Linked DNA regions of Homo sapiens. The protein of the gene in region 3 interacts with the protein of the main gene of each other region in a pairwise test. Each region holds a gene or a part of one and is shown on either strand. Other genes may lie near its edges. The genes, in order: ZNF398, DOCK1, ELMO1 and DOCK4.

Region 1 (7,036 bases), about 110 Mb from region 3:
AGGAGAATCACTTGAACCCAGGAGGCAGAAGTTGCAGTGAGCGGAGACTGCGCCACTGCAATCCAGCCTGGGCGACAGGGCAAGACTTCATTTCAAAAAAATAAGTAAAAAAATTTAAAAATAGGAAAAAGTTATAGAAAAAGGGTATAAAGAAAAAATATTTTTGTATATATGTACAATATGTTTTACACTAAGTGTTATTACAAAAGTCAGAAAGTTATAAAATAATAAAAGTATATTACTATATTATAAAGTAGTATTATAAGTATATTACTGTATTATAAAGTAATACAGTAAGCTAAGGTTAATTTATGGTTAAAGAAAAAATTTCTTGGCCAGGCGCGGTGGCTCATGCCTATAATCCCAGCACTTCGGGAGGCCAAGGTAGGTGGATCATGAGGTCAGCAGATCGAGACCATCCTGGTTAACATGGTGAAACCCCATCTCTTCTAAAAAAAAAAAAAAAAAAATTAGCCGGGCGTGGTGGCACGTGCCTGCAGTCCCAGCTACTCAGGAGGCTGAGGCAGGAGAATCACTTGAACCCAGGAGGCTCAAAAAAAAAAAAGAAAAAATGTTTCTATAAATTTAGTGTGGCCTAAGTATACAGTGTTTATAAAGTCTACAGCCTAGTAATGTCCTAGGCCTTCACATTCACTCACTGACTCAGTGAGAACAACTTCCAGTCCTGCAAGCTCCATTCATGGCAAGTGCCCTATAGAGATGTACCATTTTGTATTTTTTTTTTTGAGATGGAGTCTCGCTCTGTTGCCCAGGCTGGAGTGCAGTGGTGTAATCTCGGCTCACTGCAACCTCCGCATCCTGGGTTCAAGCAATTCTCCTGCCTTGGCCTCCCGAGTAGCTGGGACTACAGGCGCCCACCACCATGGCTGGCTAATTTTTTGGATTTTTAGTAGAGACAGGGTTTCACCGTGTCAGCCAGAATGGTCTCTATCTCCTGACCTCATGATCCACCCGCCTTGGCCTCAAAGTGCTGGGATTATAGGCATGAGCCACTGTGCCCAGCTCATTTTGTATCTTTTACACCAGATTTTTGCTGTACCTTTCCTATCTTTACATGTGTTTACAAACACAATTACCATTGTGTTACAATGGCCTACAGTATTCAGGACAATAATATGCTGTACAAGTTTGTAGCCTAGAAGCAATAGGCTATACTATATAGCCTAGGTACATAGAAAGCTACATCATCTAGTTTGTGTGAGTTCACGCTGTGATGTCTGCACAATGACAAAATCAACTAATGATGCATTTCTCAGAAGATATCCCCATTGTTCAGCAGCGCATGATTGTGTTTGTCAAACAGTGTGGTATATGCAGAACACGTGCTTTCCTTCTATGAGTCTGGAATTTGGGTAAGTGCTAGACAGAGGGTATGCATGTGATTAGCCCCCAATAAAAACCTTGGGCACTGAGTCTCTAATGAGCTTTTCTGGTTGTTACAACTCATTACTGGAACAATTAAGCATATCCTATAAGACTCCACTGGGAGAGGACTCTGGGAAGCCTGTCCCTGGTTTCCTGCAGACTTTGTCCCAGGTACCTTTTCCCTTTGCTGATATTACTTTGTATCATTCTAACAAATCTTGCTGTGAGTACAACCATATGGGAATCCTGTGAGTCCTCCTAGCAGATCACGAAATCTGGGAGTGGTCTTTGGGCCCTCCAACAGAGCCAGGAGCATATTTTTTTTTAAGAAAACAAGTACTGAGGTTGGGTGTGGTGGCTCAGGCCTGTAACCCTAGCACCTTGGAAGGCCGAAGCAGGTGAATCACTTGAGTTCACGAGTTCAAAACCAGCCCGGGCAACATGGCAAACCCCCATCTCCACAGAAAATACAAAAATTAGCCAGGCATGGTGGTGTGTGCCTGTAGTCCCAGCTACTTGGGAGGCTGCGATGGGAGGATGGCTTGGGCCCAGGAGGCACAGGCTGCACTGATCTCAGATCATGGCACTGCACTCTGATCATGGCACTGCACTCTAGCCTGGGCAATAGAGCCAGACCTTGTCTTAAAAACAAACAAACAAACGAAAGAAATTGTGAAGCTGACAATTTGATCAACCAACAGAAAATAACAGGCCAGGCACGGTGGCTCATGCCTGTAATCCCAGCAATTTAGGAGGCCGAGGTGGGTGGGTCACCTGAGGTCAGGAGTTCAAGACCGGCCTGGCCAACATGGCAAAACCCCATCGTTACTAAAAATACAAAAATTAGCTGGGCATGGTGGCACATGCCTATAGTCCCAGCTACTCAGGGGGTTGAGGCATGAGCATCTTGAAAACCCATGGTAAAAACAAACTGACAAGATAACAGCAAAATGAAACTTTGATACGTTATCACAAAACCTAATTACTTGTTATCTTTTTCACCCATCCCATAAAATACAATGATATATTCATTTGTACTTGCTGAGGTCTATGACAGATAACTAATAATGTAGACCAAAGAAATATACCCAATAAGAAATCTTTCTGTAGTCAAGTCACTCATCTTTATTGGTGGTATTATTTTAGCCTCATTACTTATATCTGTGATATAAAGATTAGTAAAATGCAACGTGTTACACTGACTAAATGCAATCACCTACACATTCTTAAAAAATAATATGGCCGGGCGTGGTGGCTCACTCCTGTAATCCCAGCACTTTGGGAAGCCAAGGCGGGTGGATCACTTGAAGTCAGGAGTTTAAGACCAGCCTGGCCAACATGGTGAAACCCCATCTCTACTAAAAACACAAAAATTAGCCGGGCGTGGAATCCCAGCTACTCAGGAGGCTGAGGCTGGAGAATCACTTGAGCCTGGAAGGCGGAGGTTGCAGTGAGCCAGGATCACGCCACTGCACTCTAGCCTGGGCGACAGAGTGAGACTCCATCTCAAAATAATAATAATAATAATAAATGTGAGGCAGATGTGTACATTGCTTAAAACTCAATTAAGACTTGAAATTTCATTATATGTAAAATTTACCTGAAAAGAAAAAAACAAATATTGAACTCTAGGTTAATAATATTCATGCTGAACTATTTACAGGAAAATGCATTGATGTCTTCACTGATTTTGAAATACATCAAAAATAGGATAGATGGCTGGGTGCGGTGGCTCATGCCTGTAATCCCAGCACTTTGGTAGGCCAAGGCAGGCAGATCACTTGAGGTCAGGAGTTCGAGACCAGTCTGGCCAACATGCTGAAACCCTGTCTCTACTAAAAATACAAAAATTAGCCAGGCGTGGTGGTGGGCACCTGTAATCCCAGCTACTCAGGAGGCTGAGCCAGAGAATCACTTTAATCCAGGAGGTGGAGGTTGCAGTGAGCCAAGATCGCACCACTGCATTCCAGCCTGGGCGACAGAGTGAGACTCCATCTCCAAAATAAATAAATAAATAATAGACGGATGGCTGGATGGAGTGATGCAGTGATAGATATATGCATGATAAGGAAGGATGGTATAATGTTAGTGGCAGAATTTAGGCGCTGGATATCCAGGTGTTCACTATAAAAATATTTTAACTTTTCTGATTGAAAATTTTCATAATAAAATGTTAGAAAAAAATAAATGTGGCGGTGGCTCAGGCCTGTAATCCCAGCACTTTGGGAGGCCGAGGCGGGTGGATCACGAGGTCAGGAGATCAAGACCATCCTTGCTAACATGGTGAAACCCCATCTCTACTAAAAAATAGAAAAAATTATCCGGACGTGGTGGCGGGCGCCTGTAGTCCCAGCTACTTGGGAACCTGAGGCAGGAGAGTGGCGTGAACCCAGGAGACGGAGCTTGCAGTGAGTCGAGATCGCATGAGCAAGACTCCGTCTCAAAAAAAAAAAAAAAAAAGAAAAGAAAAAGAAAAAAATAACTATATGGGATAGCGGGTGGGTTGTAAGAGAAGTTCATATAATAGAGATGCCCGGAGGATCAACTTTCTGTGTGCTTCTATCCATCAAAGAACAAAAAAGTGTATGAGAATTTTCTGACAGCAAGGTGAGGCATGAGAGAAACAATAAAACTGGACTTTGGTTGGCAGTCTTTCCCACACAATGTTAAGCAGCTGCCAACCAAAAAGTTAGGAAGAGTTCATGATAGCCAGCTTCCCAGACCTGAGAAAATCCATGTTGCCCAGGTGGATGTCATCAGTGTCTACTGGTTCCATGCATCTTAGAGGGACCATGCAGACTCCTAGTCCCTTCAGCACTTATGAAGGGCCATGCTTATATTTGCTCAAGCCAATTTAGTCCAGATGAGCATGACTGCCTCCTTCATCATGTAAGGACATGTTTATTTTATTAAACAGCTAGGTGTCAGTACTTCTGTCAGGAAATGCAACTTGTAACTGTTAGGTGTGTAGTACTGATAGGTGAAGACACTGGACAAGGTGACCTCTAAGCTCCCTTTTATATTTAAATGCCTGATGACACATTCAAAATCTAGTTGCTTTAGCAATGAATGGCTCTAGAAGCCCCTAAGCCCTGCTTAGCTCTGAGCCACCATGTCTGACCAGGAAAGGGAGACAAGAAGTAGGAATCTCTTCTCCCACTTACCTTCACTGGGGTCTGTGGGAATCTCACTTTCCTCTGGCCCTGCCTGGTCCTCTGTATTATGTTCCCCTTCTGGTTGAATCTGAGATAAGACATCAGGTTGATTTATAGCATAATCTAGGAGAGGAAAAAGGAAGAGAGAGTATTACAAAGAGATAAATGAGGATGACAACTAATTGCCATCAAGGCTGAGCTGAAGCTTTGTGGTCACAGTGCCAGGGAATTTCTTTTAGATTTCATATCACTTCTTCCCATCTATCCATCTTCAGCTGTGGATATCTATTCAGGAAAGCAGGCAGTGGAGATGTAATGTGTGGGGAAAGCACATGTGCTAGGTTAGCACTGCTTTCAGAGTGACAGTGTGCCTCAAGGGGGAGAAGTCAAGCTCCTTTCCAAGTGAAGGATACCCATGGAAACCACCAGCTGTCACACCCATAACCCTGAACTTCATTCTCTGTCCTACAATTTGGTAAAAAGAGAGATTATGATTCCTAGTTAGCAAGCATTAATTGGTCATATTTTGGCTTGAAACCAGAATTTGAAGTGTGTGAAGACAGAGTGAGAATGAGGTCACTGGAGGAAAAGGGACTGTTCTGAGCCCTCTTGGAGCTGCTGTCACTTCATTCAAAAGGTGTCAACTCAGCCTCACCCATGGAGATGAGAGACTCGTAGTTGCCCTTCATGATATTCTTGTAAAGTTCCTTTTGCCATTCTTCTAATTTTTCCCACTCTGGAGTGGAAAAGTAGATGGAGACATCATCAAATGCCACAGGCACCTAAAATTACAATCACATGGGTTAGTCCCTTCCATTATAATTCAGTCATTCAATAAATCTCTTTCCAATTAGTTCCTTTTATTTTTTTTACATTTTCAAAGGGTGGTCAATAAATATTCTAAATATCTCTGAAATGGTTTCTTTTAATGCTTCACTTGTCATTAGAAAATCCTAAAATCCTAGTACTCATGCAATACAGCACGAGTCCCTTAAATAAAGCTGGTACCTTTTCTTGAGGCACATTCGAGTATTTTGGTAAGCAGTAATAAAATATCTAAATACCATGTATGTTAAAACTTCAAGCTTTATTGAGTCTTTGATTTCACCTCTTTTAAAATGCCTTTTCTCTAAGAACATCACTCTCCAGGAGATCCAAATTCCTCTATTTGTTTTCTTTGTGTTGTTTCTAGTTCCTCTAGTCTTTTGCCAAGTACAGAGTTCCCTTTGATGCTGTTCATCGTGCACATGAGGAGGAAAGGATAATACCATGGCTGATGACTGAGAGCAAACAGGATTGATTTTGGAGGCATGTTAGGAACCAAAATTAAACTTCAAAATTCATTATGTCTTCTGTGTGTATCCTTTAGTCTTTTCTGAAGCTTTGTACATTCTTCAAATGGAACATTTTGTCTATTTAAAACCCAATTTTCTGTTTCCATTTCTTCTCTACCTGCCTCCAAGATTTACACCTTGTCCTGCCATCTCTTCAATTGTTTTCACGGCAAGATTTCCTGTTTTTCTGGGCAACTGCAGCTCACTGCAATTTCTCTTTAGCTTGACTGTACATTTCCCTGAGATACATTCATGAAGCATATGCTTTTCTTCTAACTGCTGTGTCTGTTCTTTTTCCAATGTCTTTTTGACTTCTAGTTAGACTTTCTCAGCTTGATTTCTTATATTTCAGCATTCCTGTTTTAATGTCTCCATCGTTTCTTTCAGCATTCGGTTCGAACTCTGCAAGTGAGGTAACTTGGATCTGAAAACTACTGATTTACTATTCCAGGTCAAAATTTTCGTTTTTTTCTTCCTCTGCATTTTCTTTCTTTCTTTTCTTTTTTTTTTTTAGAGACAGAGTCTCGCTGTACACCCAGGCTGGAGTGCAGTGGCGCGATCTCGTCTCACTGCAACCTCTGCCTCCCGAGTTCAAGCAATTCTCCTGCCTCAGCCTCCCAAGTAGCCAGGATTACGGGCACCCGCCACCACACACCGCTAATTCTTGTATTTTTAGTAGAAATGGGGTTTCACCACGTTGGTCAGGCTGGTCTCGAGTTCCTGACCTCGTGATCCACCTGCCTCAGCCTCCCAAAGTGCTGGGATTACAGGTGTGAGCCACCGTGCCCGGCCTCCCACAATTTCTTTTCACACTGATGCTTTTCACATTGCTTGCAGACATCATGATCCACTTTCATTTTCTATCTGCTAACTTGTTTTCAAATTCTAGCTTTTCATCCTGTAATGCCAGAAGTCTTTTACAACCTTCTTCCTTGGCATCTGGTGCCTTACATATTAATATATGATCTTTTTTTACTAAGGGCACTTTGTGGTGTTCAATAGCTGGTCTCAGAATTTCATTGTCTGACAGTAAACCATCCAGTTCACTTTGAATCTTTTTCCTTTCCCTTTCTAGCTCACTCTTGCTGCCTCTAGTTTCATGGCTGTTATTTCTAGTATGCTTGAAAGTTTCGTTCTTTGACTTTAGTGCTCAGTGTATTT
Region 2 (5,625 bases), on a different chromosome or scaffold from region 3:
GGCCGGGTTAGATGGGCAGAGGGCACATCCTTATGGCTTCCACACGTCTGGCAGGAGCAGAGGTGAGAGCCCCGTCCATTGAGAAGAGAACCCCCTGCCTTCCTTGTTTCTTGCCACCCCAGATCCAGCCAGATAGGCCCTGGAGAAAGCTCTCCATGTCCAGACCTCTACAGCTAAATCACACACCCATTAACCAAAGCCCTTTCTTAAATTAGCAGCTGAAAAGAGGCCCACATGATCTGCAGCCCCACAGCCCTCTGGCTTTGGTGATGGGGAAGCACTCAGCTGGTCTCTGCTTAGCTCCTGTCTATCAGGACATGCAGCCATGCACGGGACACGGGCACTTCCCATCTGGGCTCCAGATCAGACACAATTAACAGAGAGGATTAAAAACAATGTTGGAGGAAGAGGTGCATATATAAATGTGTGTCACCAAGCACTTTAACATAGCAGAACAGAAACAGCAGCGTCTGTATTTTACAATCAAGGATGAAAACATAATTGGTCAGACACTGTGAGTCTTTTAAAATAACATTTTATTTTTCGTTGTCAATGATTAACTTTTAAGTCTATTAGAAGAGTATCATGATTATAGTGAATAAAAAAATATAGATGAGAGAATACAAATATTAGGTTATACAAAGTTAGTTTTTTAAAAATCATTGTCCACCAAAATTTTCAGGACTTTGGAGTTCTCAAAAAAAAAATGTGTGTGTGTGTGTGTGTGTGTTTTAACACTTCCAGCAGTTAAAAATTAAGAACACATATGGATAATCATTGGTGGACGCCTATTATAATAAACGGAAGGACCACAAAAATTAAAACAAGTTCTAAGAACCATCATATATACAAATTTCTGTACAGAATGAGGACAAAAACAATTCACCCAATTAAAACCAGCTCTTGTGGTACACATACTCTTTTTCAGAAAAGAACGAACACTTATCTTCCTGTATTCATTTGTTTTTCCATTTGATTCAGTATTCTTAATGCTGTTTCCACCCCATAAATTAGTAACTGTTCAATAGCTGAGAAATATCCTATTTTCAATTATGCAGGGGAAATCAGGAGCTTCCCTGGAGGGGTTGAACTTCATGGTCTGATGTAGGTTGGAGACACACCTCAACCAACGAAGTCACACCACCGGCTGGAACAAGGAGGGGCTGGATACAACATCCCATGACAGTGAGGAGGATTCTTATACATCATCACTACACAGCTTCCTAAGAGTGATGGCCTAGCCTCTCCTACTTGGCTGAGCTCAGAGCAATTGAGCTCTTTGCAAATGCAAGTCATTTGGCACAAAAAGAAAGAATGTTTGGGCAAGACTCAGACTCTCTCAGAGCCAGACACACTCAGAGGCCCCCAACTCTGATAACTACGATAGCACATCCCGGACCCATATCTACCTCCCAGACCCACCTTGCTCCATGACGCTAAAGGCCACTCACTCCATGGTGAGAACTGAACTCCTTTGAAGAAAAAGCAGTCGCACGAAATGTTAACATCACAGGCCCAATGAGGTAAACAGCAGACTCAGGGGACACAGAAGGAGAGGGCATGGAGATGGGGAGGGGCAGCACACTCTTTCCAGAGAGGCTTGCGACGTCACTGCACGATCCCGGAGTCCACCGATGCCTGCTTGCGAGTTGTCTTTGGAGGGGGAGGAGGCGGAGTTTTGCTGGGCAGTGGAGGTGGCAGATGCTAAAAAACATGAGGATGGGGAAGATGTCACATAACTGATGTCCTGACAGAAAAGACACCGTCTCCAGGTGGGGTCTGACCTGGCACAGCCACTCAGCCGGAACCATCCTCCCCACATGAGTTGGGCTCCATCCTGTCCGACTTGGGGCTGGCAGGTCTACTAGGCTCAAGACTGGGCTGCTATGGGCCTGGGCCTTTCTGACGCCTCTGAGCACTCTCCCACCGTCTGCACAGCCCCTGAGAGGTACCATTGCCCTTTGCGTGGCCTTTTTAAATCTAGATGCTATCGACCAAGTTATCCATCTATTGTCTAAGGGATAAATAAGTCCTTAGAGGCACTCTCCAGGGGTGAGATGAGAGACCTTCTTTTGCTTTCTGAGCTTCGGGCAAAGGTTAGCAAGCTTCTCCTGGAAAGGGCTAGACAGTACATATTTCCAGCTTTTTGGCAGGCCACACGGTCTCTGTTGCAGCCACTCAATGCCACTGGTGTGGCCGAAAAGCGGTCATTGACAGTGTGTACAGAAAGGGGTGTGGCTGTGTTCCAAGAAAACTATTCACAGAAACAGGTGGCTGGCTGGCTGGCTTCAGCTCATGGGCATATATTACTTTAGATTCCAAAAAAGAACATTAATTTCCAATGTGAAGATAATAGCAAACCCCTTGCTGATGGACCTGGCTGGAGTGTTATGACTGAGGGCAGCTGCACCCTATTGCTTTTGGGACCCTCATGCCCATCACACACACCTGATGTGCAGGAGACTCTCTAGAAATATGGGTCAATCGAATAGAAAAATGGATGAATGAGTGAATAAATGAATGAGTGAATAAACGAGTCAGTGGATAAATGAAGAAATGAACAGGTAAGTAAACAAATGAATGAAGAAGTGAACAGACCAGGGTAAGTGGGAGCATGCCACAGGCAGAAGAACCAGAATGAAATCACAGAACACTATCGTCTAACTTAAGGGTAAGAGTGGATTTTTATCAGCCTCTCAGTGTGGGTTTGCATTTAGCTGAATGTGAGAAAAGAGGTTTTCAAGGATAGACAGTGACGCAGTAGTCTCTCACTCATCGCCCAGATTTCCTCCTGATTCACAGACTAGTAAATACAAAAATGACCTAATGCTTAACACAGAGAGGAGAATAAATGTGGAAAAGTAAAGCTGATATAAAGATGTCCTATGAGTGTATGACCTTATATTAAGGAAGGTAAAACAACAATTAAGTCTTTTTAAGGTTGGTTAGAACCGTTAAAAGAGACATCTATTTTGAGGTCTGATGAAACTGTTTGTTTACATGTGAAAGCCACACTCACTGATAGGCCAATGAGGAGCAGGTAAGGACCACACTAACACAGCCTGATACCAACACAGCGCTGCAAATGACCTCTATGCCAAGTATGAGCATGTCAAAAGTTTATCACCATTAAGCAAAATGATTAATGGTGATAAACTCAGTAAGCTCAGATTACTGACAGGAAGAGCCATTTGGAAAGAAATGACAGCTTAGTGGCAACAACTAAAGACAGAGTTGCCTACAAGCCTGAGGCTGATCAATGAGAGTGACAGGAGGATATTGATCACACCCCCATCATGGCAGATGGATGATCATTATCCTAGAACAGCTCTCAGGGCCTGTGCAAAGGGAGGCACCCCAGGAAATGCAACCGCTTCTGCCTAATGATGACATACTAACCACCAGCGTGTCACCTGAGCATGCACTCAGGCTGCAAGTAAATTAAACAAGAAACAAAGACCAAAGACACCTGGGTCATTAATCTAATTGAATTCACACGCCCTTTATCAATTGAGAGAGAGCTAATCCATGTTATCCCTTACTTAATCAACTGTATGTGGCATCAGTAACCCACAATGGTGTATCCAAGAAATTGAGACAATAAAATGTTACCCCGGAGTTGATTTGTAACAAGAAGAGGAATTGGCTGTAATTCTAAGTTTAGAATTTTCAGTTTACTAGTGTAGGGAGACTAGGGGGAACATTCCTGCCTTTGCAATAAAATAGAGAGAAGAGAATGTGACCAATTAACGAAGCTGTTAGGGAAACAATACTCCAAGCAACCCAATATTCTTGTTAGACCCCCCCGAATCTCCTTTTACTCTCACAAGTAGTTAGAAATGGCCGGGGAAGGTCCGGCTTCCATTTCTGTGGTGCAACAAACCATTCCAGCCTGCCAGAAAGCCCTCTTCACAGGGGAACCTGGTGCCTCCTCCAGGACCGGTTCCCCATCGAGGCGTCTCTAGGGAGAGGGAGCCTGTTTAAATGGCACTTGGGTCTCAGAAGAGCAATCTGCCTCTTTGATATTAAAGATGACTGCTTGTTTAGTTTTCTGATACAAAGGGAATGATGAAATACGTATGCTGTACACAAACACCCTCTCTCTTCCACTCCTCTCATAAGGGATGTAATGACCTTGTGGAACACTCCGTCAACGAGTCTCCATTAAAAAAAAAGAAAAAGAAATGGCACGTGGGATTTATATTGTTTATTAAAGAAAAATAAAAAAAAAAACCATGTCTCACCATTATGAAAAAAACAGAGCCACCCAACAATCTCATGTTTTCAATGTTCTACAGGAGTTTTGCGGCCATATAATTACTTCACTAAGGCTGGATAGCAAAAAAAATACGGCCAGCTGTCCACATATGAAGAGGGATATTTTACCCTTCAGACACCACTGATTTAATTGTCAAAGGCTGTGAATAACATGGCCTGGGGAGGCCTGAGCCTAGAAGCAGAAGTTCCCGCCGTGGCTGAGTCAATCGCTCGCCCGCCTCCATCCCACTCATGCTGCCCTCCACACATGCCTGGGCCCGACATGAGGATGGGGCTGGGACCCGCAGGGATGAGTGACGCCTGACAGCATCCTTGAGAACCAGGAGAGGAACGGGGTGGATCTCAAAAGAATGTTTCTAGAACTGTCAACTGGTAACTGAGGTGCTTGTTTAAATGGCTTTTCATGACTTTGACTAATATTTGTACGGGCAGGCAGGCCCAGGGGCTGTTTGGCACAAGGCACTTTGGGTGGCATGAATGACTAAAACAGCTGCTGGGGGGTACCAGCTTCAGGGACTCACGCTGAAGAGGGGTTCCAGCAGGTTGCTTAGGCTTACAAAGGCCAGTGCTGCTGGAGGAAGCCAGGTCAGCACCCCCGAACTAGCACTGGGGAGGGTGCCCAGGGGTGGGGGCACAGTGAGGATGACTGTGCCCAGGAGCCAAACCTGGCTGTCCTCTGCAGTCTCCGTAAGGTGAGTGCCTGTCACCACCCAGGAGCTCCCAGCACCAGGTGAGGCTGCCTGGAGGGATGTTTGGAGACAAGCTTCTCCAGGGCCAAGCAGGTGTACAACAGGTGCCTGCCATACAGGGCGATATTGGCCAACCTCTTTAAAAAGTCAGACCTCTTGATAGAAAAGCTACTTCTCAAAAATCAAAATGTCATTAGAATTGCATCTCCAGTGGAATGATCTCCATGGTGATGATAACCGATGACAACCTTGGAATGTCTATCCTCTTCCTCGTTCTGAGGCATGATATCAAAATGTGCTTTTTGATGCAGTTATTGATAATGACGCAGAGCCACAGATCTTACCCACTGGAGTCCTTACTGCTTCGATATCTTTTTGCAAAATCAAACCCGGGCCCATCATACATGGTTTTCCTCATGTGCTCACTAGCCCGAAGTAAACCTGCTAGTATCTGGAATGAGGGACTCGTCCTACTTTGTGGAGGCGAAGCAATGAAAGCCTGTGTTTCAGATTGCCGACTTACCCTCTGGTGTGGAGGGGGAGGTGGAGGTGTTGGCGAGCCCAGCAAGTCCTGGTTTTCCATCAAATTCCCGTAATCTGCCACGCTGCCTTTGAGAGGCAGAGGGGGTGGGACATCGGCCACGTCCGCCCCCGTCAT
Region 3 (5,495 bases):
CTGGTATGATGGAGTGTTCCAGGTTTATCTTTATGTTTCCTGCCTTTTCTCTGTGAAGCCTTGATTACTTGTAGTGGGAAATGATATTTAGTGACCAGAATCTAAGCATGAGTTGTGTTTATGGTCATTGCACACCACGATGCAGTGGTTCTTGGTTGGTCATTATTTTTTAGCCCTTTTTGGGGACAGAGCTAGGTGGTTTTCTTTTAAGATAAACTAATGAATTGATACTGATAGTTCCAACTCAAATTCAGTATCAGTACTACAGGGTTTTTATTTATTGGTCGATGTACTTTCACATAAAATTTTCTGTGCCTGTTGTTTCTAAAAAGAAACGTGCTGCAGAAGTGTTCCTGTGGGTTAAACTAATCTATACTAGGAAGCTAGCCAGGCCTGGGAAGGCTGTGTGAAAAGAACAGTAATCCCCAGGACTTGGGGATTTACCATGAAACAGCATGAAAGCTGGAAGGGGCCTTTGAGAATGTAGAGTTCAGTGGCACCCGTACCTGCGTGTTCGTTAGAGTTTTCTAGGAAGCAAAGTCTCCTCACCCTAGATCTACATGATCAGGATCTCCAAGGTAGGAGCTAGGTGTCTACTTCTGTCAAGGTTATTTATGAAGAAATTGATGGTTAGACATGTTCAGAATCAGATCATGAGGACACTAATTCTTCCGGAAATCCCTTAACACTAAATTGATGTTTCGATGGGTTAAATGCTTTGGCTGAGATCACATAGCCAAGGTAGAACCAAAGCCCTCCAAATCAATGCTGCCCTCCTGAAACACAGATCTCATAATACACCCATTGTGCATCTCCTCAGCTTAAAAAGGAGGACCGCTGATGTGCATCACGGAAGATTTCCATCACATCATGGTGACTGGAGATTTATATAGTGCTTGCAGTATACTTTGGTTACTTTTACGTTGAGATCTGCTACCATGGAATACAGTCCAGATAACCACAGTGCCAAAGTAGGTTAAAGAGGGTCTGGAATTGCCGCTTGAACTAGTGAGGCAGAAAAGTTGGGAATCTGGAGTGCATGGTAGAAGGAAGACCACTTCAACAGAAGAGGAGAACAATTGCTGTTATAGAATCCTATATAGGACTACTAGAAACCTAAACTCCAGTGCATGAGTGGAGCCCAGCATCCAGAATGCCAAGCAGCTTTCTGAGATGCTGGCATCAGGGGTGCCTCTTTCACCAGGTGTCATGGTTCTCTGTCCATGTCAGTACAGAACTCCAGCCTCTGGGAGGGGAAGCTAAGAAGAGAAAAGCAGGTCCTCAGACAAGGCACAGTTCTTCCTTCTCCCTCACAGAGATCATAGTCTCCTGGAGAGACAAAAGGCTATGAAAGGAGAAGAATCAGACTCTTAGTTGGGTACTGTGAAGGGCTTTCCAAAACAGATAATATCCCCAAGTATGAGGCCCCAGAGACCTGGTGAAAAGAAACCTTAGGAACTAGAGACAAAGGCTAAAGAGGTCCCCAGACAGGCAGCCAACCCTCCTCCCATTAAGATTGCCCAATAATTTTAACCATTTTGGCTGCCAGACACTGGGCAGCATAAGCCTATTTCCTAGCCCTTTAGCTGAGAAACACCAAGGTGGGACTGCCATTGGCCATTGGCTCCAGGGTGGGACAGGGCTGTCATTGTGAATGCTAGGATCAGACAGGACAGGCCGAGATGAGCTACTAGACTAGGAGCCATGACTGGAGTCAGCAAAGAAACCTGCTTCACCTGATGTTGAGTCCAGGGCTGTTCGGTAGATTCCACCAGTACCTAAAAGTCATAGACTCCCACCTAGGTGTTACATTGCAAGTCATGGAGAACTCCAATCCTCAGCTGTTACAGAGAAGCATTCTTTGCAAAGAAGAGCACAGGCACTGGAGTCAGATTGCCTGGGTTCAAATCCCACCCGGTCTACATAATACTGAGTCACTTCTCTGTACCTCAGTTCCTTCACCTATAAAACAGAGATAACAGAAGTATCGACTTTATATTGAGATGTCGCCAAATATGAAATGACGAAGTAGGCAGAGCCCTTAGCGCACAGCCTACTGAGGGATGAGTATTCACTGTTAGCTATTTTTACTATTAATACTTCTGTAATTGCCACCAGTAATGATCGCTGTTGCCTCCCTTCCTGCCAGTACTGTATCTGGACGGATGGACTGAATGCGCTACTCGGGAAGGACATGATGAGCGACCTGACGCGGAATGACCTGGACACCCTGCTCAGCATGGAAATCAAGCTCCGCCTCCTGGACCTGGAAAACATCCAGATCCCTGACGCACCTCCGCCGATTCCCAAGGAGCCCAGCAACTATGACTTCGTCTATGACTGTAACTGAAGTGGCCGGGCCCAGACATGCCCCTTCCAAAACTGGAACACCTAGCTAACAGGAGAGAGGAATGAAAACACACCCACGCCTTGGAACCGTCCTTTGGTAAAGGGAAGCTGTGGGTCCACATTCCCTTCAGCATCACCTCTAGCCCTGGCAACTTTCAGCCCCTAGCTGGCATCTTGCTCACCGCCCTGATTCTGTTCCTCGGCTCCACTGCTTCAGGTCACTTCCCATGGCTGCAGTCCACTGGTGGGACAAGAGCAAAGCCCACTGCCAGTAAGAAGGCCAAAGGGCCCTTCCATCCTAGCCCTCTGCAGGCATGCCCTTCCTTCCCTTGGGCAGGAAAGCCAGCAGCCCCAGACTGCCCAAAAACTTGCCCACCAGACCAAGGGCAGTGCCCCAAGGCCCCTGTCTGGAGGAAATGGCCTAGCTATTTGATGAGAAGACCAAACCCCACATCCTCCTTTCCCCTCTCTCTAGAATCATCTCGCACCACCAGTTACACTTGAATTAAGATCTGCGCTCAAATCTCCTCCCACCTCTCTCCCTGCTTTTGCCTTGCTCTGTTCCTCTTTGGTCCCAAGAGCAGCAGCCGCAGCCTCCTCGTGATCCTCCCTAGCATAAATTTCCCAAACAGTCCACAGGTCCCATGCCCACTTTGCGTCTGCACTGTGATCGTGACAAATCTTCCCTCCTCACCAGCTAGTCTGGGGTTTCCTCTCCCTGCCCCAGGCCAGAACTGCCTTCTTCATTTCCACCCACGCTCCCAGCCTCTTAGCTGAAAGCACAAATGGTGAAATCAGTAGTCTCGCTCCATCTCTAATAGACTAAACCTAAATGCCTCTAGGACGGACTGTTGCTATCCAAGCGTTTGGTGTTACCTTCTCCTGGGAGGTCCTGCTGCAACTCAAGTTCCACAGGATGGTCAAGCTGTCAGACATCCAAGTTTACATCATTGTAATTATTACTGGTATTTACAATTTGCAAGAGTTTTGGGTTAGTTTTTTTTTTTTTTTTTGCTTTGTTTTTGTACAAAAGAGTCTAACATTTTTTGCCAAACAGATATATATTTAATGAAAAGAAGAGATACATAAATGTGTGAATTTCCAGTTTTTTTTTAATTATTTTAATCCCAAACATCTTCCTGAAAATAACATTCCCTTAAACATGCTGTGGAATAAAATGGATTGTGATGATTTGGGGAGCTGGTGTTTTGATTTAGTAACTTAGGTTCTTGCTACTCAGTCATCAGCATCACCTGGGAGCTTGTTGGAGATGCCAGCTCTTCAGCTCCACCCTAGACCTGCTGAATTGGGTGATGTTTATGTACATTGGTTTGAAAAACACTGCTGTGGGAAACCCTCCACCATTGCTAGGTCACCATAGGCTCTGAGCATCAGTGGAGAATGTTACTTCTAAGAAGACCATCTCGACTCACTGAGAAAATCAGACCCACTGTATGAAAATATCTATTCCTTTTACATTGCTGTCTCTTGACCATGACTTTCTCTTTTTTCTTTCTTACCATGATATAATTTATAGAATGGGTCTAATTAAAGACATCACAACTTTGAGGGAGCACATTTAGCAATGAAAAGAATGCATACCCACAGACCTGAAATAAGCCAGAACTAAATAAATCTAACCGTGGGTTAATAAATTATAGGTCAGAGCCCAGCGAAGGATGTTTCTTAAGTCATTTGCACTGGAGGCATTATCAGGATTGTAAACTCCCAGCACTGGGAGGGATGTCAGAAGGGTCCAAGCATGCAGTATTAAGCGTGGCACAGCACCAGCCACTCTGGCCTCACAGCACAAGCTGTGGAAGCATCCAGGTCATTTCTCTTTACCGTCATCAGGATGTGCAATTACAGATTGACCTGGGTTGAGATGATATGGTCCAGAGCACTGCATGCATTGCAGGAAAAAAGTCCTTTGCATTCACAGGGGTTCCTTCTTCCCATCAGAGCACTCACACCTGTGTCAAGCTGTTAATTCCTTGATCATTAAGCTTCGATGTTATTAACATGTACTTGCTATCAGGAGCAGTTATTAATCTACCCATCATCATGATAAAACAGTAAGTGTTAGGTCAAAGGCAGCAAACAAAGTCATATTATTTTTTTCTTATGGGTTACAAGATCCAATCCATGAAAAAGGGAACTTTCTGGACCAGGATCTCTGAGGTCCTGAGACACTGGGTTTAAGAAATGTATCTGTCCTGTGACCTTGGTTGGGGAGATCCAGCCCCTCTCTCTTCTGGCACTCCAGCTTTGGTGCATTTAATAGAAAGAAACCTTTTCAGGACTATGAAAGGCAGCATTCTCCAGCTCCTCCCTAGACCCTCCTTTGGACCTGTGAGATCTGAAGAGTATGCCATCTGTTTCCATTCATTTTGTGACCATGTGGGGAAGGATTGTTGCCCATATTTGGCCACCTCACCTTCTCTCTCCAGGCTGCCCAAGGCTTTTTTTCCCATGCAATGAGCCTACCACCTCCAACTCATCTCCTGTTGCCTGCAGTTTCCTAAGCCTGGGCAACTCAGCCAAATCCAAGGCAGAAGTAAAGTAGGAAGACTGATGTTGTCGTGAAGTCCAAGTTGCATTCTGCTATTCATATTACTCAAAATAAAACTGATTACTTAATTTGAATCTGCTGATGTTTAAATTCCTCTCTTATTCTTGTTCAGAACACATAAGAGGAAGGAGAATTAACTGGCCTCTGAAACCTCTGTGACAACATTTAAGGGCAGGGAAAGCTAATAGTAATTGCAAAAGAAAAAGTGCAAGGCTGAATGTTTCTTGAGTCTATTTGCAAGTCCGTTCTAAGCCATCCTTCAGTTATCACCTACAGCATGTCCTGTCCACCTGCTTTTACAATGAACAAAGCAATGGGTGTCCCCAATGACATGCATACCAGTCATCCATTTTGTTTTAGTTATGAAAATACAATTAACACAATCCTTTCATTTTAAGGGGAAATGAAATATCCATTCAATAATCAAAAGTGTGCTTAGAGATAGGCCCTAGGAACTCAACAAGAACAAAATTTGTAAAATTGAGATTTGTAAAAATGAGAACAAAATTCATCAAATCAGGGAAATGACAAGCAACTTAGTCAAATATAAAACCGAAAAGTTGCAGCACAGTGT
Region 4 (6,869 bases), about 75 Mb from region 3:
TGTCCCAGGGTATTAAACACACAGACTAACATTTTAATCAGAGCAAGAAGAAAATCTCTTAAAAGAAGCAGTTTTCAAGAAGTCAAAAAGGTGTATGTTTTTTAAAAATTTTATTTTTATTATACTTTAAGTTCCAGGGTACATGTGCACAACTTGGAGGTTTGTTGCATATGTATACATGTGCCATATTGGTTTGCTGCACCCATTAACTCGTCATTTACATTAGGTATTTCTCCTAATGCTATCCCTTCCCCATCCCCCAACCCCACGACAGGCCCGGGTATGTGATGTTCCCTGCCCTGTGTCCAAGTGTTCTCATTGTTCAATTTCCACCTATAAGTGAGAACATGTGGTGTTTGGTTTTCTGTCCTTGCGATAGTTTGCTCACAATGATGGTTTTCAGCTTCATCCATGTCCCTACAAAGGACATGAACTCATCCAAAAAGGTGTATGATTTTTACAGGGAAAGACATACTTGATAACCTAAATGACTGCCTAACAAAAAATATACTTTTAATATAAATATTTACACCTAAAATTTATATCACACCTTGTTGGCTTTGAAAAGATTTTGGAAAAAGTAACAGAATGATACATAGGTTATTAAGCAGAATTTTTAATGACAACTTTATCTTATAAAAATGACATAAAAAATCAACCATTAATTTCTCCTGTTGACTGCTACAAGTCAATGAGAATACTGGGTATTTCTCACCGAGGGTGAGAAATTTTTTTATGTTATAGATACCGCAAATTCACTACTACTCAACACTTTTATTGAAAACAAACTGGAATCAAAAACTAAGCTTTCTATCAGTTACTTAATTCAATCTACTAGTCATTGAAACATTGGTCCTGGATTATTTCCTCAAAGTTTGTGACAATATGGGGGAAAGAACACTCATATACTACAGGTGGCAATGTATGCTGAATATATTTTAAGAGGAAAGTCTGGCATCTGTCAAAATTTTAAACTTGCATAACCTTTGATCCAGCAATTTTCTCCCAAAATATACAACCAGTGGGCAAGAATATATGTACATAAAGTTGTTCATTGCAACATTACTGAAAAACTAAAGTCACACTATATGTTCATTTATAAGGGAATGGATAAAGAATGGCACAATCATATTTTGGAATATGATGGGCACAGTCCTTAAAAAAAAAGGAAACAAATGTACTGACGTGGAAGGGTTTCTATGATAGACTGCTGAAAGAAAAAAGAAGGTTGCAGATCTTTCAGTTTATATAGATTTATCCCTTTTTATTATAAAAATCAAATCATAGGCCGGGCGCGGTGGCTTACGCCTGTAATCCCAGCACTTTGGGAGGCCGAGACGGGCGGATCACGAGGTCAGCAGATCGAGACCTCCTGGCTAACACGGTGAAACCCCGTCTCTACTAAAAATACAAAAAACTAGCCGGGCTTGTTGGCTGGCGCCTGTAGTCCCAGTTACTCGGGAGGCTGAGGCAGGAGAATGGCGTGAACCTGGGAGGCGGAGCTTGCAGTGAGCCGAGATCGCGCCACTGCACTCCAGCCTGGTTGACAAAGCGAGACTCCGTCTCAAAAAAAAAAAAAAAAAAAAAAAATCAAATCATACAGACGTGTGTCATATAAGAATATGGTGGTTTAACAGAATACGGATTGTAGGATTAAAAAAAAAAAAAGAAGAAGAAGAATATGTTGGAAAGAATATGTACCAAACTCTTATCACTTAATACTCGGGGAGTGGTGCTGTGAGGTGAGGGAATTTTCATTTTTTTTACTTCATACACTTCTGAATGGTTTGAAGTGCTTTTAAAAACTTTTAAACTTGTAAAATTTAAAAATAAATATTTTTAAATATTTTACATTTTTGAAAGGCATATCCTTTTTTTTTGTTTTGTTTTTGATACAGAGTCTTGCTCTGCCTCCCAGGCTGGAGTGCAGTGGTGGATCATGGCTCACCACAACCTCCGCCTCCCGGGCTCAAGGGATTCTCCTGCCTCGGCCTCCCGAGTAGCTGGGACTACAGGCATCCGCCACCACGCCCGGCTAATTTTTGTATTTTTAGTAGAGACGGGGTTTCACCATATTGGCCAGGCTGGTCTCGAACTCCTGACCTTGTGATCCACTCGCCTCGGCCTCCCAAAGTGCTGGTATTACAGGGGTGAGCCACCGTGCCCGGCCATTTTTTAAAATAAGTTAGACTGTGAGATAAATTCACCAGTTTAGATCTTAAACTGGTAGCCCTCTGGAACTTTGAAAATCTAGGAAACCGTAATAGTCTGTTACCATCAGATAGCCCAATATATAACCAACCCAAAAATAAACCATTAGGGTGTTAAATTCAATATTTAACTCAGGAGACTACCAAAGATTTGTTTGGTAGAGGTACTAAAATAATTTCAGAGTAGGGAGTTCCACTGTTGGGAAGTGGGAAAAAACTGCACTTCAACTCTGTGCCGCTGAGGTAAATACTTAAGATGATATCAATTTAACTGTGAAAGCAAAAACAAATAAATCGAAAAACAAAGTCGCAACAGTCTGAGAACTATATTTAAGCCCCAAACCATGTTCATCAGAAAAAGACAACTTGTGCTAAATTACACATCAAGACAAAAATGGGGTGGGGGGAATGGGGGAGGGATAGACTAAAGGTAAAAGAGTCCTAAACACAATCCACCTGCAGCTTTCAAAATTTGGTTTTTTATTCCTACAGTGGATCAGAGGACAACCTGAAAGTCAGGTACAGCCAAAGTTGTGATGGTTTTCAAAACTCTTTTCAAATGTTCTTTGAAGCCACGAGTGCAAATTATCTATCACTTTCCTTTTCTTTCTCTAAGGACCCAGAGACTGGGAAGATCTCTCAGGCTCCACATACAAATCTGAAGAACACCCAGAGCAGTTAACCATCTACAGGGAGGTTGTGAGATACACACACTTTCCCTTCAGAGGTCACCTCAGCCACAAACTGGGCAAATCTGTAGAGTGGAGAGCAGTGACCACCAGTCTGCGACTGGAAATACTCCGGAAGCTAAATAAAACACACCTGCGAGGTCAAACCAAGCAAACCAAGGCAGTGTACTGGTGAGGAGAAAGAGCTGCTAATCCCAAAATTATAAACACACGCGCGCGAACCAGATCTGAACCAAACCCACTCAGCAGCTAGCTCAAAGCTGGGAGCTCCAAACCAGAAGACAAACGCTCAGGGAGCTTCCCCGGCGGAGGGGAAGGCCATTCCATGGCATTTTCTCCGCCATCCCATGGCATTTTCTCCGCCATCCCCGGGCAGCCCCAACCAAGTAGCCGCCACCGGCTCCAACCCATCCCGCTGGGCCACCACCCGTGGGGCCCAGTCGAACCCAGGTGGCCCCAGAGCTGAAGGGCTCCTAGGGTCAGACCAGAGGTCCGTTGCACACCCGGTCATAGAGAAAGGAAGACACATCAGCCGCGCCTCCGGGGCACCGTACTCACCCCCATAACCTACACCCCCGACTGTGCTGCAGCTCCCATCACGGTCTTCCTGCATTCGGGCGACAGCCCCCTGGGTCTTGGAAGCAGCCATTACCCGGCAGAAAAGAAAAGGGAGGGCCGCAGGGCGGGTCGGAGGCGGGGTGGCACCAGTAGAAACGCTACTGGAGGCGAACTCCCCGTCGACGTAATGTTTTCTCCACACCTACGCCGCGCTCTGGACCAATAGGACGCAATCAGTAAAACTGAATCCCCGCCCCGAACCACATTTGCCGCGCCCACTTCCGGGATGGGGAGGCCAAGAACTACAATTCCCAGCGTGCTGCGGGGCCCTGGGACGGGAGGGCTGGACTAGGCGCTGGCGGGCGGGGGTGCGCCGGAGAGTGCCCCGGCGTGTTCGCTTAGTTCAGTGAATCAGAACAATGACTGCGCCGCCGGGTACCCGGGAGCGCGTCGGAGGACTGTGAGCAGCCGCCGCCGGGAGAGCTGCGGGCGGCGCAGTGTCAACGCTGGGCTCGGGAGCCTCCAGCGCAGATCCTGCCCAGCGCCCGCAGCCCGCGCGAAGCCGCTGGGCTCCGGCACTGCAGCGCTGCTCGGGGACTGTGCATTGTTGTGAGCCGGAGAAGGGGCGCGGGGATTACAAAGCCTGAAGACCCCGGAGCCCCTTTAGCCATGTGGATACCTACGGAGCACGAGAAATACGGCGTGGGTGAGTCTCCGCGGGGCGAACTTTTATTCTGCTCTGGCCCGAGCGAGTGCGCATTTCTCGTCCTTGCCCCCGCGCCCCTCTCGCTCCGCCCGGTTGAAAATGCCTAATCCTGGCATCGCGCAGCTGGTACGGGGCTTTGCCGAGCCAGCTCCAGGCAGAGGGCTGCGCACCAGGCTCTCGCCCCGCACCGCCTGCTCGGCGCGCCCCGCACTGGTTCCCGAAGCGCCGGGACAGCTTGGGGGAGCGCGCGGCCGGCCCGCTAGCTTCGGGCTCTGCCTGCGGAGTTTGGAGTGGCGACTGGGCGTGTGTGTGTGTGTGTGTGTGTGTGTCAAGTTGGAAGAGGAGGCGAATGGGGTTTCTCTCCTTCCTTACCCTTCTTCCCCAAAGCGACAGGGAGCTGCAACGGTTCCTCTGGGTGGAGAGGGAGACAACAACACTCGGGCAGAGAGAACACCCCCAAAACAGTAGGGAGGCGCAAACCCTTCCCTCTGGCTCGGATCGACATTCCCGGAGTGTGGAATGTGGCAGGGTCCTGGAGAGAGCCGCTCTGACAAGCTGAGCCCTCTCTGACCCTCCTCCCTCTCTGCGATCCCGGATTTATGGGGTGTGTATGTTGCGGGGCGGGGGCATTGGTAAATTTCAACATCTGCGCCGCTCGGTTCTTTGGTCTTTGGAGAAGAACGGGTATTTCAGCAGTGTTTTTACTTCTGGCCACCCTCTCGACCCCGGGTGAGCGCAGTGGGGGCGGTGTGGCGGTACAGGGCTGCTGAGTGATAAATGGGGAGGGGGATCGGAAAGCCTGGTTCTTGGGGGCAGGGAGATAGCTTTTAGGAAAGCATACCCTGACACTGGCGTTCGGAGAAAAAGGAACAGGATAGCTCTCGCTGTTCTGTGTAAAGGTGAACAACAAAGGACATTAATGTTGACTGATGAATACAGGAGTCTCCCTTCCTTTTCCTCCTCCCATTTCAGGCGGGTTACAGTTCCCGTTTTTGTTGTTTGATTTCAGCTGGGTCGCCCCTTGACAGTTACTCCTTTTAGGGTTGAGACTATTAAGAAGCCAGGCTCTCCGACAAGGCTGCAGCCGGCCAAATGCAATTATAACCTCCCAGAAGGTCTAACAGAAAGCATTATGGATTTTACTAACACTCTTTATTTCCTATAATGCCCTGTTCTGCCGACTGGTGTACTTTGTGTGTGTGTGTGTGTGTGTGTGTGTTTTAAAATTGAGGACAGGTCTAGTGATTTAGGTGATGTGTAGATATCTGCTTATGTTCTAAATTCATTTTCCTGCAATTTAAAACATCTGGAAAGCCTTCCCAGGGAGTCGTAGTCCGAGGGGATTTTTGTTTTTTTTTTTCCCAACTTTGCCTGGGGATAGGACTTTGGGGTCCATTGAAAGGACTGTAGGATTCAACAAAATCATTCCCACATTTCACGTTAGCTTCCATTCTGGATTGTGACTAATTACCAAGACAATAGTTTGACCTGAACCCACCTTTGGGAAAGGTTTCCAGCTTTCCCTCCTTCAAAGTGTCAGAGGAGTCTTTGCCAGCCTCTTTACTGGCAAGGAGTAGATGTTAGTAGTTGTTATTTTCGTTCTCCTCACTCTTCTCTTTTTTGGGAGGTAGATTAACCCTTGCTAGGGAAAAAGATAGTCCCTTTGCTGGACTGGTGAGGGACCCGAGGGCATCGCCTCCTAAGCGGCTTTAACACTCAGTGCAGGAAGCTCAGATCCATCCAGGCAAAACTGTCCTGCTTGGAGTCGATCCCAGATGTTGCTTTCTTCCAAGTGTTAAATTATACAGATTATGGATGGGATTTATTTTCTTGATTTCTTCATGTGCCAGGTCACAGCTGGGGTGCTGGTATCGATTAGTTCCTCTCTTGCCTTTCTTTACAAGCGGTGGGCAGAGGCTTAAAAACCACTCTGGGATTTCCTGGAATGGCAAACCGGATATTATCAGTCAAATGTTTTGGGCTGCAGCAGACACCTCGGTTTTGGGTGGTTGTGATTTGATTGCAGAGTAGGGGAGGCAGAAGGGTGTGCTCACAATTGAGAAAAAGAGGTTGAATGAGATGAAGGACGAGAGCAGAGAGAGGGTCTTTTGCCCCAAATTACTGCTGTTGTTCTCAATATCACATGTGCCAGAATGTTAATTAACCTTTATTATTAATTTTTGAGCATTTGGATTGTGGAATGCTTAGCTGTTTTTTAGAATCCATCTGTTAGGCGTGTGTGTGTGTGTGTGTGTGTGTGTGTGTGTGTGTGTGTAGTGAAATTTTTGCTAGGATACTTATGTGTGGACTTTATTTTTCACCATGGAGGGCACTGTTTATAGCTGCTTATATTGCAAGTTGTTTGTTTTTTCTTTTAACCTTGGTTAATGTTTGTGTTTTTCTCATGTAGTTCTTACAGATGTTAAAGAAAAGATCTTATGGGCACAGATCTTTGTTACCAAGTGTAGTGGTAATTTAGTTTCTTCATTCTTTGAAATAAATCAGTCTTTGTAACAGAATATGTGACGTTTTAGTATAAATTATATATTTCTGCAAAGGTACTTTTTATATACCCTCATTTATGTATGAGATAATTATGCTTTTATATACTTATGATTAAATTTTAAGCAGCATACTGTAAACATGGGTAAAATTAGTTAAATTTTATATCTGTAATTAAATGTATCGGAGATGGAAATTCTTTTT

What was found.
Region 1: the proteins of ELMO1 (region 3) and ZNF398 interact in binary tests that used the Homo sapiens proteins (3 or more experiments, as listed by UniProt).
Region 2: the proteins of ELMO1 (region 3) and DOCK1 interact in binary tests that used the Homo sapiens proteins (3 or more experiments, as listed by UniProt).
Region 4: the proteins of ELMO1 (region 3) and DOCK4 interact in a two-hybrid assay, tested with the Homo sapiens proteins (one study listed by BioGRID).

Annotation. Positions count from the first base shown.
Region 1 is NC_000007.14:149,164,445-149,171,480, reverse strand, and holds part of ZNF398 (zinc finger protein 398), read right to left. Parts: intron 5,324-7,036; coding exon 5,197-5,323; intron 4,665-5,196; coding exon 4,551-4,664; intron 1-4,550. UniProt on the Homo sapiens protein: Functions as a transcriptional activator.
Region 2 is NC_000010.11:127,447,411-127,453,035, reverse strand, and holds the end of DOCK1 (dedicator of cytokinesis protein 1), read right to left. Parts: coding exon 5,491-5,625; intron 1,705-5,490; coding exon 1,609-1,704; 3' UTR 520-1,608; downstream 1-519. UniProt on the Homo sapiens protein: Involved in cytoskeletal rearrangements required for phagocytosis of apoptotic cells and cell motility. Along with DOCK1, mediates CRK/CRKL regulation of epithelial and endothelial cell spreading and migration on type IV collagen.
Region 3 is NC_000007.14:36,852,406-36,857,900, reverse strand, and holds the end of ELMO1 (engulfment and cell motility protein 1), read left to right. Parts: intron 1-2,149; coding exon 2,150-2,350; 3' UTR 2,351-4,995; downstream 4,996-5,495. UniProt on the Homo sapiens protein: Involved in cytoskeletal rearrangements required for phagocytosis of apoptotic cells and cell motility. Acts in association with DOCK1 and CRK. Was initially proposed to be required in complex with DOCK1 to activate Rac Rho small GTPases.
Region 4 is NC_000007.14:112,203,396-112,210,264, reverse strand, and holds the start of DOCK4 (dedicator of cytokinesis protein 4), read left to right. Parts: upstream 1-3,865; 5' UTR 3,866-4,126; coding exon 4,127-4,163; intron 4,164-4,196; exon of another isoform or gene 4,197-4,762; coding exon of another isoform or gene 4,763-4,892; intron 4,893-6,869. Other genes in the region: ZNF277 (zinc finger protein 277), read right to left, coding at 3,458-3,548. UniProt on the Homo sapiens protein: Functions as a guanine nucleotide exchange factor (GEF) that promotes the exchange of GDP to GTP, converting inactive GDP-bound small GTPases into their active GTP-bound form. Involved in regulation of adherens junction between cells.